Homo sapiens: one gene and its partners. The protein of the gene in region 1 purifies or fractionates together with the protein of each later gene. This does not show direct contact. Each region holds a gene or a part of one and is shown on either strand. Other genes may lie near its edges. The genes, in order: ABHD10, UBR5 and KCMF1.

Region 1 (3,753 bases):
TCTCAGTCTTGAGAAGAGAATCCATGTGTGCTGCTAAAGTTTTCCCCATTTTGTAATTAAGAAGTTGATTTTTTAAAGATGTAACTGAAGGCCTTAAAGTTATCCTTTTTACATAAAAGCTTGTTTCAAAGTATAGAGAAATATGCCAAATTTAAAACTTTTGGTAAGGACCAGTTATGCTGATCCACTCATGTTCATTTCCCATCTACTCAGCTGAGCACTAAAAAAAATTCTCACTATCCTCTTCCAGAAATCACCTCTTAAAACATAATTTCCCCGAGATGATTATAATTTATTTAATGTAAGTTCTAAGTAGACAGATTCATATAATTATATTCATAAATCATCTTTGAACATAAGGATTAATTCAAAGCCTGGTGCATAAGTGCTCAATGAATAAGTGCTAACTAGATGAAATAATATTATACTCTGGTTAATGAATTGACATACTACATTTTACTAGGAGTATTTGCATGTGTAACATGCCTTTTGGTTGCGCACAATTAAATGCAAGTTAATCTGATTATAAAAGTTTAAAAACTGGATACAAAAATCTCCATACAAAAGATCTCTGCCGTGACATTAATTACCACTCCAAGCACCATGCATCATCTGACAGCTACGTGGCAATGGTGTGAACCACACACAAAGCCAAAAAAATAAAAGGATCTAATTCAAAGACTATATATACATATAAGAGGTTCTCTGATTTTTAGCCCAAATTCTAGTTTCCTTTGTGCAATAATGATTATGGTTCTTTCACTGAGTGGGTGCAGCAAGAAAGCAGAACTAGAAATTAGGCTTATGAGGGCGTCTACACTTTTACAAAGAACATGCCTCGCATTGTTAGGTTCCCTAAACTCAAAGGAGAGTCAGTCTAAGCATTTTAGGAGTCACAATCTACAAATTCCTAGAAGTAACTAATAATAATGCATTAAATGCACATTTTAATTTTTTCTAGTGTTGGCCTTTAATGCAGGGGAGGCAGGTAAGGAGCAGGAGCTCTTTAAACTGCACAGTGTAAAACGCCAGCGAGGGCCCGGGGTGCCCAGAATGCCGCAGGGCCGCGGCAGAGCTCTCCTCACAGCCTTCACCAGAAGTCTACAAAGCGCCTAGAACTGGGGTGTTGAGAAAGGGGGAGGAGCATTTTTGAACCGGGCGCCAAAGACGCACTGCACAGGCACGGTAACTGACGGAACCCGAGGCGTTCGAAAGAACGCATCCTACTCCCGCCTTTCGGACACTGACCTGGGAGCCACCGTGGCGCCCGCTGAGGTATCCGTGCAAGCAGCACGCTGAGGCCACGGTGGGGACCGAAGGGGACGGCTGCCCAGCCCCAGCTCCGACAAGGTACCCAGGCCGCCACAGCTGCCAAGCGCGCAACCGCCATCTTCGTAGTTGTCCCCGCACCCTGCAGTGTCCCACTGAGGGACACGCTACGCAACGGAACCGAGGCTGCGCATGCGCTTCAGGCTGGAAGGCGGAACTTGCTAAAGAGCTCCCCGCAAGATTTTCAGCTTGCGAAGAGCGCACATGCGCAGAGCGTCGTGGCTCTTTCGTTTAGACTGTTGGTTCTACTAGTAGCGGGGTTTGGCTTGGGGCCTTTAAGATGTTTTGAGTGGCGTCGGGAGGCTGCCCTATCAGCGGGCTGATAGATACTACAGAGCTGGAAGCTCAGAAAGGAACCCTATCCAACGGTCCTAGATGGGAAACGTCTCCTGTCGAGGACACCAGGCTTGCTGCATCACCTGCAATCCCGCCGACCGCGTGACAGTTTTAACCTGTACTGGAAATGCTCCCAAGATCTGACATTAATCTCGCCTGTATAACCTGGAATGGTATCGGACATTCCCCGCTCTAGATCTATATGCCTGATTAACGAAATACTGAATTATCTTGGCCCCCTCCTCGTGCTATATGCGAAAATAAATTTCAGTAAAAAAAGATTTCAACGGAAGAATACAACTGAGAGGATTAAATAAATTTTAGGAGAATATTATATAATCCGGGGACAGAAGGGACTTTCTTAACCAAGATTTCAAAACCCCAACATCATAAATAAAAAATATATTTGTATACGAATTTAAACTTTTTGAATGGCAAAAGACACCTCAAGTTAAGAGCTTAGAAAAATGGATTTTGTAGCATAGATACATTAATACTTCTACTCAGCCTGCTCCTATAAATAAGAAATATAATTCAAATAAAATTGGCCAACAGCTATAAATAGGCAGCCCATATAAGGAAACATGATGCTCAAACTCACTAAATGAAAAACTGGAATTAAAAAAATAATGCCTTTTTCCCCCCATTCAGTTGGCAAAAAAGAAAAATAATTGGCAAGGATGCTAGACACTAGCACTTATGTATGATTGCTAGGAAGGTGAATTACTAAAATTTGTTGTGAAGTAATATGGCCACATCTATTACAATTTTAAAATATGCATCCATTCCAGTGCCTTTTAACGCAGTGGCACCAATTTGTGATTATCCTATAGAAAAACAACACTAGTTCTTAAGACTGCATATTATCTACTACACCGTTTTTAGAGGCAAAGAGAAGGAAAAAAATGGGAATGGCTAACAATAGAAAAATAGTTGAATAAATTGTAGTACAAGGGTTTCCGGACTCCAGCTCTAAATACCTTTCAAACTAATTCCTGGGGGCCTCAAGCATCAACCATGGAGTTTTACGTAGTAGTTTCCTATTTAAAAGTTATGGTGGCTTGTGTAATACTTTGAGTATATATAAGATAGTAAAGTAACTTTTATTATCCTGGTTATAAATTTGGGGGGCAGTAATTGGTACCAGAATTAAAGGCAAAGTTTGGATATAGTGAATCCAGCATGTCTTTGGAGTCGTGAGAACCTGGACTGTTGGAACAGTCTGGAACAGTTAGATAAATAAAGACTGAATAGATCTCTTTCTTGAGAGGTGGGATGCCTCTCTCTACTAAGGACATATAGTTAAGGACAGCAACTTGATTTCAGGACATACTCCAAAAGATGCTGAGCTATGTTGCCCGTTCTCCATTAGACCTGTTGTAGACTCTAAGGGACTAAATCACTAAGGTGATGCCTGATGCATGTCATTTCATCATCCCTTATATTTCTTTTTTGGGTTTTTGTGTGTGTGTGTGTGTATGTTTTAGACTGAGTCTCGCTCTTGTCACCCAGCCTGGAGTGCAATGGGGCGATCTCAGCTCACTGCAACCTCCACCTCCTGGGTTCAAGCGATTCTCCTGCTTCAGCCTCCTGAATAGCTGGGATTACAGGCACCGACCACCATGCCTGGTTAATTTTTGTATTTTTAGTAGAGATGGGGTTTCACCATGTTGGCCAGGCTGGTCTCGAACTCCTGACTGCAGGTGATCCACCCCCCTTGGCTTCCCAAAGTGCTGGAATTACAGGTGTGAGCCACCGCACCTGGCCCATCCCTTATATCTTAACAAACACTTCTCTCTGCATGTTTTGGATAATTGCAAATATTCTCAATCACTTCTCTCCCTTTTCTTCCCCTTTATTTTTGCAAGTCTTCTTGCATTTTACTTGCAGTAAGATGAAAAATCTGACTGGTCATAGTGGGAAAATCACTGCACAGAAAAGCAGAGAAACCCATGGATTGTTTTCTGTATTCACTCTTGTTGTCTAACAAATTAGAAAAAATTATGGCCAGTAGCAAGTACAGATGCTTTTACGGACAGTGATGAGCTTGAAGTAGACAAATTTGTTTCCACTCTGGGTACCTATTGT
Region 2 (3,753 bases), on another chromosome or scaffold:
ATTAGCCCGATGTGGTGGCTTGCACCTAGTAGACCCAGCTACTCAGGGGGCTGAGGTAGGAGCTCAGGAGGTCAAGGCTGCAAAGAGCTCTGACTGCACCACTGGAATATCCAGCCTGGTGACAGAATGAGACCCAATTTAAAAAAAAAAAAAAAAAAAAAAAAGGCAAGAAAATAAAAATCTTTTAAAGAAACTTTAAAATTCATTCATTATTTAATGACCAGAAAAGCTGGAGAAAGAGTTATTAAAATAATACTTTCTTTTCTAATACCCAGAGAACAAGGATGAAGTTATAAAAATGCTTAGCTACCCTTGCGTATATCACACAAAGTATGACCCAATCCACGCTGAATACACACACACAGCCTTAGCATAAGCAAGAAAGTAGTTGGGATAAGGCAACATACCTGCTTCTGAACCAGCAGTTGCTGCAGTGACAACGCTTCTGCGCCCACTAGCATTATCTTGGTTGCTGTGGTTACTTTCACTATCACTTTCTGTTTCAGCTGCTGCTAACAAGTCCAGCTCCATATCACTCCCTAAAAAATACATTTAAATAAGAAAAAAGCACAAACTCACTATGGTTTAAAACAGGGTCTGATAAGCCAGAATATCGTAAGGGTGGGAACTAAGAAGGCATAGGGGGTAGGAGTTGGGGAGAAGGGGAATGGTGTGAAAGAGAAGGGATAACTACTAAAATAAGACTAAGTAACTACTCAACCTTAGAAGAATGGCTAGGGAAATTATGGTAGTCAACAGACTAGTACATCAGGGCAGTGCAGGGGAGGACTGAAAGTAAATATACAAGCTATTAGCATCTGGGTGTAATTATGGGTGATTTATTTTCCTTTTCTCTAATTTCCAAATGTTTCATAATGCGACTATGATTATTTTAGTTTTTAAAAGTCTTTTAAGAAACTGACTTAAAAAGAAAAAAGGGAAACTATTTTATATATGTATTATATATAGCGCCTAAATTTTCTAAATAGATGCTACAGAAACCCTTGGCAAAAAATAAGTTTGACCATTTCACTATACATTCAAATGAGGTTTCTCTCTGTATTTAATATCTCCCTTTAAAAGTACCTGATTTACTCATACTGAGTAATTTCTCAAATAACCTGCATACCGTCTTCATCATGCTCATCATGTTGTCCCTCTGCCTCAGCATTTTCTTCCCCGTGTTCTTCCTGTTCATCATGATGATCCTCTTCTCCAGCCACACCCTCCACCACCTCAACCTAAATCCAGAATCTTATTTGTAGACAATCAAAGCTAGTTAACTAAAATGCGAAGACCACTAACTATAGAGAATTTGAAATCATATATCAAGCAGTTTTGAAAATCTTCATTTGTTAGTGACAATTTGCTATCAAAAATTATATCCTGGCCGGGCACGGTGGCTCACACCTGTAATTCCAACACTCTGGGAGGCCGAGACGGAGATGGGCGGATCACAAGGTCAAGAGATCAAGACCATCCTGGCCAACATGGTGAGACCCCGACTCTACTAAAAATACAAAAATTAGCTGGGCATGGTGCGTGCCTGTAGTCTCAGCTACTCAGGAGGCGGAGGCAGGAGAATTGCTTGAACCCGGGAGGTGGGGGTTGTAGTGAGGCAAGATTGCACCACTGCATTCCAGCCTGGCAACAGAGCAAGACTCCATCTCAAAAAAATAAAAAAATTATACCCACAGATCCCAAAGTTCATTACTGAGCATATACAGAACCCTCAAGTTAGAAGTATAAAAATTATACTAGGGGCAGGGAGGAGAGAATTTACCTCATAAATATGTAGTATCCTCTTTCAAATACATTGTACAAAACTACTAAATTTTTCTAACATTACGAATATCTTGGCTGGGCGCGGTGGCTCACACCTGTAATCCCAGCACTTAGGGAGGTTGAGGCAGGTGGATCACGAGGTCAGGAGTTCGAGACCAGCCTGACCAACATAGTGAAACCCCGTCTCTACTAAAAAATACAAAAATTAGATGGGTGTGGTGGTGCGCGCCTGTAATCCCAGCTACTCAGGAGGCTGTGGCAGGAGAATCGCTTGAACCCGGGAGGCAGAGGTTGCAGTGAGCCGAGATCACGCCACTGCACTCCAGCTTGGGTGACAGAGCGAGACTCTGTCTCCAAAAAAAAAAAAAAAAACCCAGAATATCTTTGCTGTTAACACTGAGAATATCTCCACCCTTAATCCTTAAAGACAAGTTTGTGTCCAATTTCCTAATATCCAGTAAGTCACAAATTATTAAAATAATTTTACTATGTATAACCACAAATGAGAATATATAATAAACATCTACAAACTGGATGCAAACGCATATAGTAGTCTCAAGCTACTATTAATGTAATTTCTACTGACTACTCTTCTTTTCTCATAAAATAAAAGCTTTTTAAATCTACCACAATTAAAATCACCTCTTCCACATCTGCTGAAACAATATCATCCTGTTCTTCATCTCTGCCCCGAACGGGCTGTGACTGGCTGATGCGCCTCTGCTGTGGATTCCTGATGATGTAGGATGACTGAGACTGACTGGAGCTGTAAAGAATCAGAAGCTTATGAGTGGGCTCCTGCCACAGCTCAGATATGCAACACATATTTTTATTTAACTCATTTATTACATGTGAGACACTTGCTAGGATGTGACTTTAAATCTGAGCTGAGAATTCTTAGAAACCAACAATACTTAATCTATATATCAGAAAATATAAATCTCAGAATATGTTTTTTCTTTTTAAGTCATTTCAAATCTGTGTTGATGCACATTATTTGTATGAGTCCATCCCATCGAAAAATTCTACAGGAAGATTTTTCCTCCTCCACCAGCAGTTCTATTTCTAAAAACTCTGGTAGCACCATCTGTCCATTAACAGCAAGTGTTTAATAGAAGTGATCTAACTTTTAAGAGATCTGACATGATTTCTATTTTGAATGAGCTTATTAACTAATGACTTGCTGATGTGTGTGGGGAAAACATCAGTTCAAAAGCATGATTTTAAAGTAGTCATAACCAAAGGCAAAGTGGCAAAAGTTTCACTTCCCTAAACACCTGATTTGGAGACAACCAAGAAAAGACAGTTGACTGGATTATAAAACAAAAAGGGGGAACCAGAAAATACAGCTTAAAATACAGGCCAGAAATCTGAAACTGGTGGCTAAATAACCCTGTCACCTATTATTTATAGATTATGAAACGGGGTAAAAGATGTTGAAGTCAAAAGACCTTTAAGTGATTGCACTGACAGGTTCTTTCCTATCTCAGTTGCTATGAGAAATGAGAATCAAACCAATTAGACCTGAGAGTTGACTGAAACACCATGCCTTCAAACAAACAGATAAGTAGTCTCAATATGATGTTTAACACTAGAACTATAAGTAACTGGTAAAACAGAGATCGTGGATTACAAAAGTGGGAAAGGCTAAGAGAAAATCTGTAGAGATGAAAAAGGGTATTTCCAACCACTAAAGAGATTTCAATATTAAAACATAAAAGCACTGTGTGAAGCCACAACTAATGAGTATTTCTTTTTTAAAACAAACATCCTAGAACAAACATCCACAAGAACTATAGGCCCCTCAAAGTGGTTACTTTAAGAAGTTATGCAGTTAGTATGTATAATACTGCCAAAACAGACTAGGTATAGTGGCTAATGCCTGTAATCCCAATGTTTTGGGAGGCTGAGGTGGGAGGATTGCTTGAGGACAGGAATTTAAGACCGACCTGGGCAACACAGCGAGAC
Region 3 (3,753 bases), on another chromosome or scaffold:
ACTTAAACATGAATATAAAAATATGGGAAAATGAGCTTCAAAATGAACTTTAAATGAAATTATGAAATCAAAGACCCCAGAAATTAAAATGTGATTCATTTTCCCATAAATTTACATTCTTATATATTCTCTATTGAAAGTCAAGGTAAATGTAATTTACGATTTATTCAAACTGAAAAAGTTGCTGGGCATGGCAGCTCACACCTATAATCCCAGTACTCGAGAGCTGAGGTGGGAGAATCACTTGAGCCCAGGAGTTTGAGACCAGCCTAGGCAATACTGGAAGATCCAGTCTCTACAAAAAAGAAAAAAAAAAAAAGTCGGGTGTGGGGCGCACACCTGTGGTCCGACCTGCTATGGAGGCTGAAGTGGGAGGATTCTTTGAGCCTGCGAGGTCAATGCTGCAGCGGGCTATGCTGGTGCGCAGCATGGGCGACAGAGACCCTGTCTCAAAAACAAAAAACGAACTGAAAAAGTCTTAAGAATGTCATAATCTGTTAACAGATTACAGTTAAAGTACAATAAGTTGTAAGAAGACCTGATGGTAAGGATCTTATCAGTGGGAGTCCACTTACATTTCTATAGGGAGGCAAAAGGCACTGCATTAAAATCACATGCTAATTACCAATCTTGGCTTTGCAGTCCCCAAATCCCAAAACCAAATTATTTCTGTCTATATGTGTGCTTCAGTGGCAGATAACATTTTTTGAGAAGAGAAAATTAAGGCTAGGAGCAATGGCTCACACCTGTAATCCCAACACTCTGGGAGGCTGAGATGGGAGGATCACTTGAGCCTGGGAGATGGAGGTTGCAGTAAGCCAAGATCCCACCAATGTACTCTACTCTAGCCTGGGCAACAGAGAGTAAAAAAAAATAATTATAAAAAAGGAGAGAGAGAGAGAAAATTAGAATCTACTAAGAAAAGAGTGGTACAACTTTCAAAAAGTTGGAGCTGCCATTCTACAATGTATACATATTTCAAAACATCATGTTATACATGATAAATATATACAATTTTTGCCAATTAAAAAAATAAAAACAAAAAAAGTTGGGACTAAGTAGATTAATGGCCTACGTAGTCTTGTATTTTACATTTTAAAAATAAATAGTATCAGATACTTCTGAAACTAGCATAACAATATGACCACCTGCTCATTTATCCACTATCATTTTTACATGTGAAAATCTTCAAAAAGCTAGAGAAATTATAAATCAGATAAAGATAAGGACTCTACTTGAAATCTCAATTTGTTTTTTTTTGTTTTTTTTTTTTTAAAGAAATAGGGTCTCTCAGCCTCCCATCTAGCTGGGACTACATGTGCACATCACTGCAACCGGCTTGAAATCTCAAACAATTTTACCCAAAATCAAAAGTAGCCCAGAAAGAGTTAAGAAGGTGCTGGGCGTGGTGGCTCATACCGGTAATCCCAGCACTTTAGGAGGCTGAGGTGGGTGGATCACTTGCGGTCAGGAGTTCGAGACCAGCCTGGCCAACATGGTGAAACCTGTCTCCACTAAAAATAGAAAAATTAGCCAGTAGCAGTGGCAGGTGCCTATAATCCGAGCTACTCGGGAGGCTGAGGCAGGAGAATCACTCGAACACAGGAGGTGGAGGATGTAGTGAGACAAGATCACGCCACTGCATTCCAGCCTGGGCGACAGAGCGAGACTCTGTCTTTAAAAAAAAAAAAAAAAAAAGGAGTTAAGAAGGCACTCAAGAAAAAAGTGCTAGAATCACAGTAGAGTACCTCTCTGAAATTTGACAAAATTAGTAAAAGTTGGCAATTACTTTGTCATCAGTGTTTATCCCTTCCTTATGGCATGTTTCACAATGCACTGTGGAAGCTACGTAAAAAATGCATCTTCCTTGCCAGACTTAAAGTAAGGAGCTGCATCTTATTCACTTAGCCCCACATTCCTTGGAACCTAGCAGACTGCCTTACACATAGTAGTGACTGAAAGGTTGAATGATTTAAGGCGACACATGTACCTAGATCCAGGTAATCAATTAGGCTCTAATCTATGCAAGAACATTCATGATTTCATTTTAGCTAATAAGCAGCGAGCAATTTGTTAAGTTGCTTTTTTTTATTTGGAAAGCTTTAAAAGTAGATTTTAAGCTCTGAATAACATACTTACATTTTAAATGTATTTGAAAGTATGATAGTGAGACATTTTAAAAAATACATCAAGATAAAAAATGATTGGGTTCACTGTGAACTAGACAGTGTTGGCAGGGTGAACACAAAGTGGGTGCTAAAGTCTATAAAATGTTAACATGACAAGAACACCACAAAGTGAGTTAAAAGTGGCCCTACAATTCTCACTGGAAAAGTATTAACGGGCAAGCAGGAAAAATGTAGGGTACTGCCATCTCCACTAAGGGTCTGTAGGGTGGGGAGCCTGTTGTCCACTCCTGAGGAACAATTATTTCCATTCCTCATGGTGCTGCTGAAAAGTGAAGTACGGAGGAGCTGGTTCAGTCTGTGAACTCATTTCCCATCACCCAAAGAAAATGACGGAATCCCAAGCTGACTGGGCCCCTTCTAGACTCTTGATAGTTCAAGCTCTATCAACTCTCTAAAGCGCCAGTCTAGGGCAGAGGTAAAGTAAGGCAAACTACAGCCCTCAGGCCAAATCCAACCACCACTTTTTTTTTTGGAGATGGATTCTCACTCTGTCGCCCAGGCTGGAGTGCAGTGGCACGACCTCAGCTCACTGCAACCTCCACCTCCTGGGTTCAAGCAATTCTCTGCCTCAGCGTGAGCCACCACGGCCGGTCCACCACCAGCTTTTATATAGCCCGAAAGTTAAGAATGGTTATTTGTATTTTTGAATGGTGGGGGTGTCAAATGACAAATCATATTTCATGACACATGAAAATTATATGAAATTCGGCCAGGTGCGGTGGCTTACGCCTGTAATCCCACCACTTTGGGAGGCCGAGGCCGGCGGATCACGAGGTCAGGAGTTTGAGACCACCCTGGCCAACATGGTGAAACCCCATCTCTACTAAACGAAATACAAAAATTAGCCGGGCGCAGTGGTGGGCGCCTGCAATCCCAGCTACGCGGGAGGCTGAGGCAGGAGAATCACTTGAACCCGGGAGGTGCAGGTTGCAGTGAGCCAAGATCACGCCACTGCACCCTAGCCTGGGCAACAGAGCAAGACTGTGTCTCAAAAAAAAAAAAAAAAAAAAAAAAAAAAAAAATATATATATATATATATATATATATATATATATGAAATTAAAATGTCAGTGTCCACAAATAAAGTTTTAATTGGAACAGAGCCATGATCTTTCAATTACAGGTTGTCTATAGCTGCTTTCGTACTATTACAGCTCCGCCAAGCCTGCAATGTTTGCCACCTAGCCCTTTACAGAAGAAGCATGCTGAACCCGGGACTAGAGCATCTCTCTATGCTCCTGGTTGCATTGCCTTTCTCAGAGGCACTGCTTCACAAGGTTGAGCCTTCAAGCTTGACAGGTGTCCATCTCAGGACTGTGTCATCCAAAGTTACATTAATAAAATCATAGGATTTAGTGTAATTCATTAGGGTGGGTACAAAGACAAAGTAACATATTACCTGCACACATAAGGCCCTGAAAAGGAAGCACCAAGCAAGTACAACATGATAGGCTTGTTCAAACCTTTTACCAGACTATTATATCCAGTTCAGGATCACACTACTGAAAGGAAATGAGAACTACAGAGAATTTGGAGGTGGACAGATGACTGAGAGTGCAAAAAT

What was found.
Region 2: the proteins of ABHD10 (region 1) and UBR5 purify together in Homo sapiens (co-immunoprecipitation; 2 studies listed by BioGRID and IntAct, with this or other methods). This does not show direct contact.
Region 3: the proteins of ABHD10 (region 1) and KCMF1 purify together in Homo sapiens (affinity purification with mass spectrometry; 5 studies listed by BioGRID and IntAct, with this or other methods). This does not show direct contact.

Annotation. Positions count from the first base shown.
Region 1 is NC_000003.12:111,976,699-111,980,451, reverse strand, and holds the start of ABHD10 (palmitoyl-protein thioesterase ABHD10, mitochondrial isoform 1 precursor), read right to left. Parts: upstream 1,427-3,753; 5' UTR 1,391-1,426; coding exon 1,249-1,390; intron 1-1,248. UniProt on the Homo sapiens protein: Acts as an acyl-protein thioesterase that hydrolyzes fatty acids from acylated residues in proteins.
Region 2 is NC_000008.11:102,287,026-102,290,778, forward strand, and holds part of UBR5 (E3 ubiquitin-protein ligase UBR5), read right to left. Parts: intron 2,552-3,753; coding exon 2,428-2,551; intron 1,242-2,427; coding exon 1,130-1,241; intron 540-1,129; coding exon 408-539; intron 1-407. UniProt on the Homo sapiens protein: E3 ubiquitin-protein ligase involved in different protein quality control pathways in the cytoplasm and nucleus. Mainly acts as a ubiquitin chain elongator that extends pre-ubiquitinated substrates.
Region 3 is NC_000002.12:84,974,150-84,977,902, reverse strand, and holds part of KCMF1 (E3 ubiquitin-protein ligase KCMF1), read right to left. Parts: intron 1-3,753. UniProt on the Homo sapiens protein: E3 ubiquitin-protein ligase which accepts ubiquitin from an E2 ubiquitin-conjugating enzyme and then transfers it to targeted substrates, promoting their degradation by the proteasome.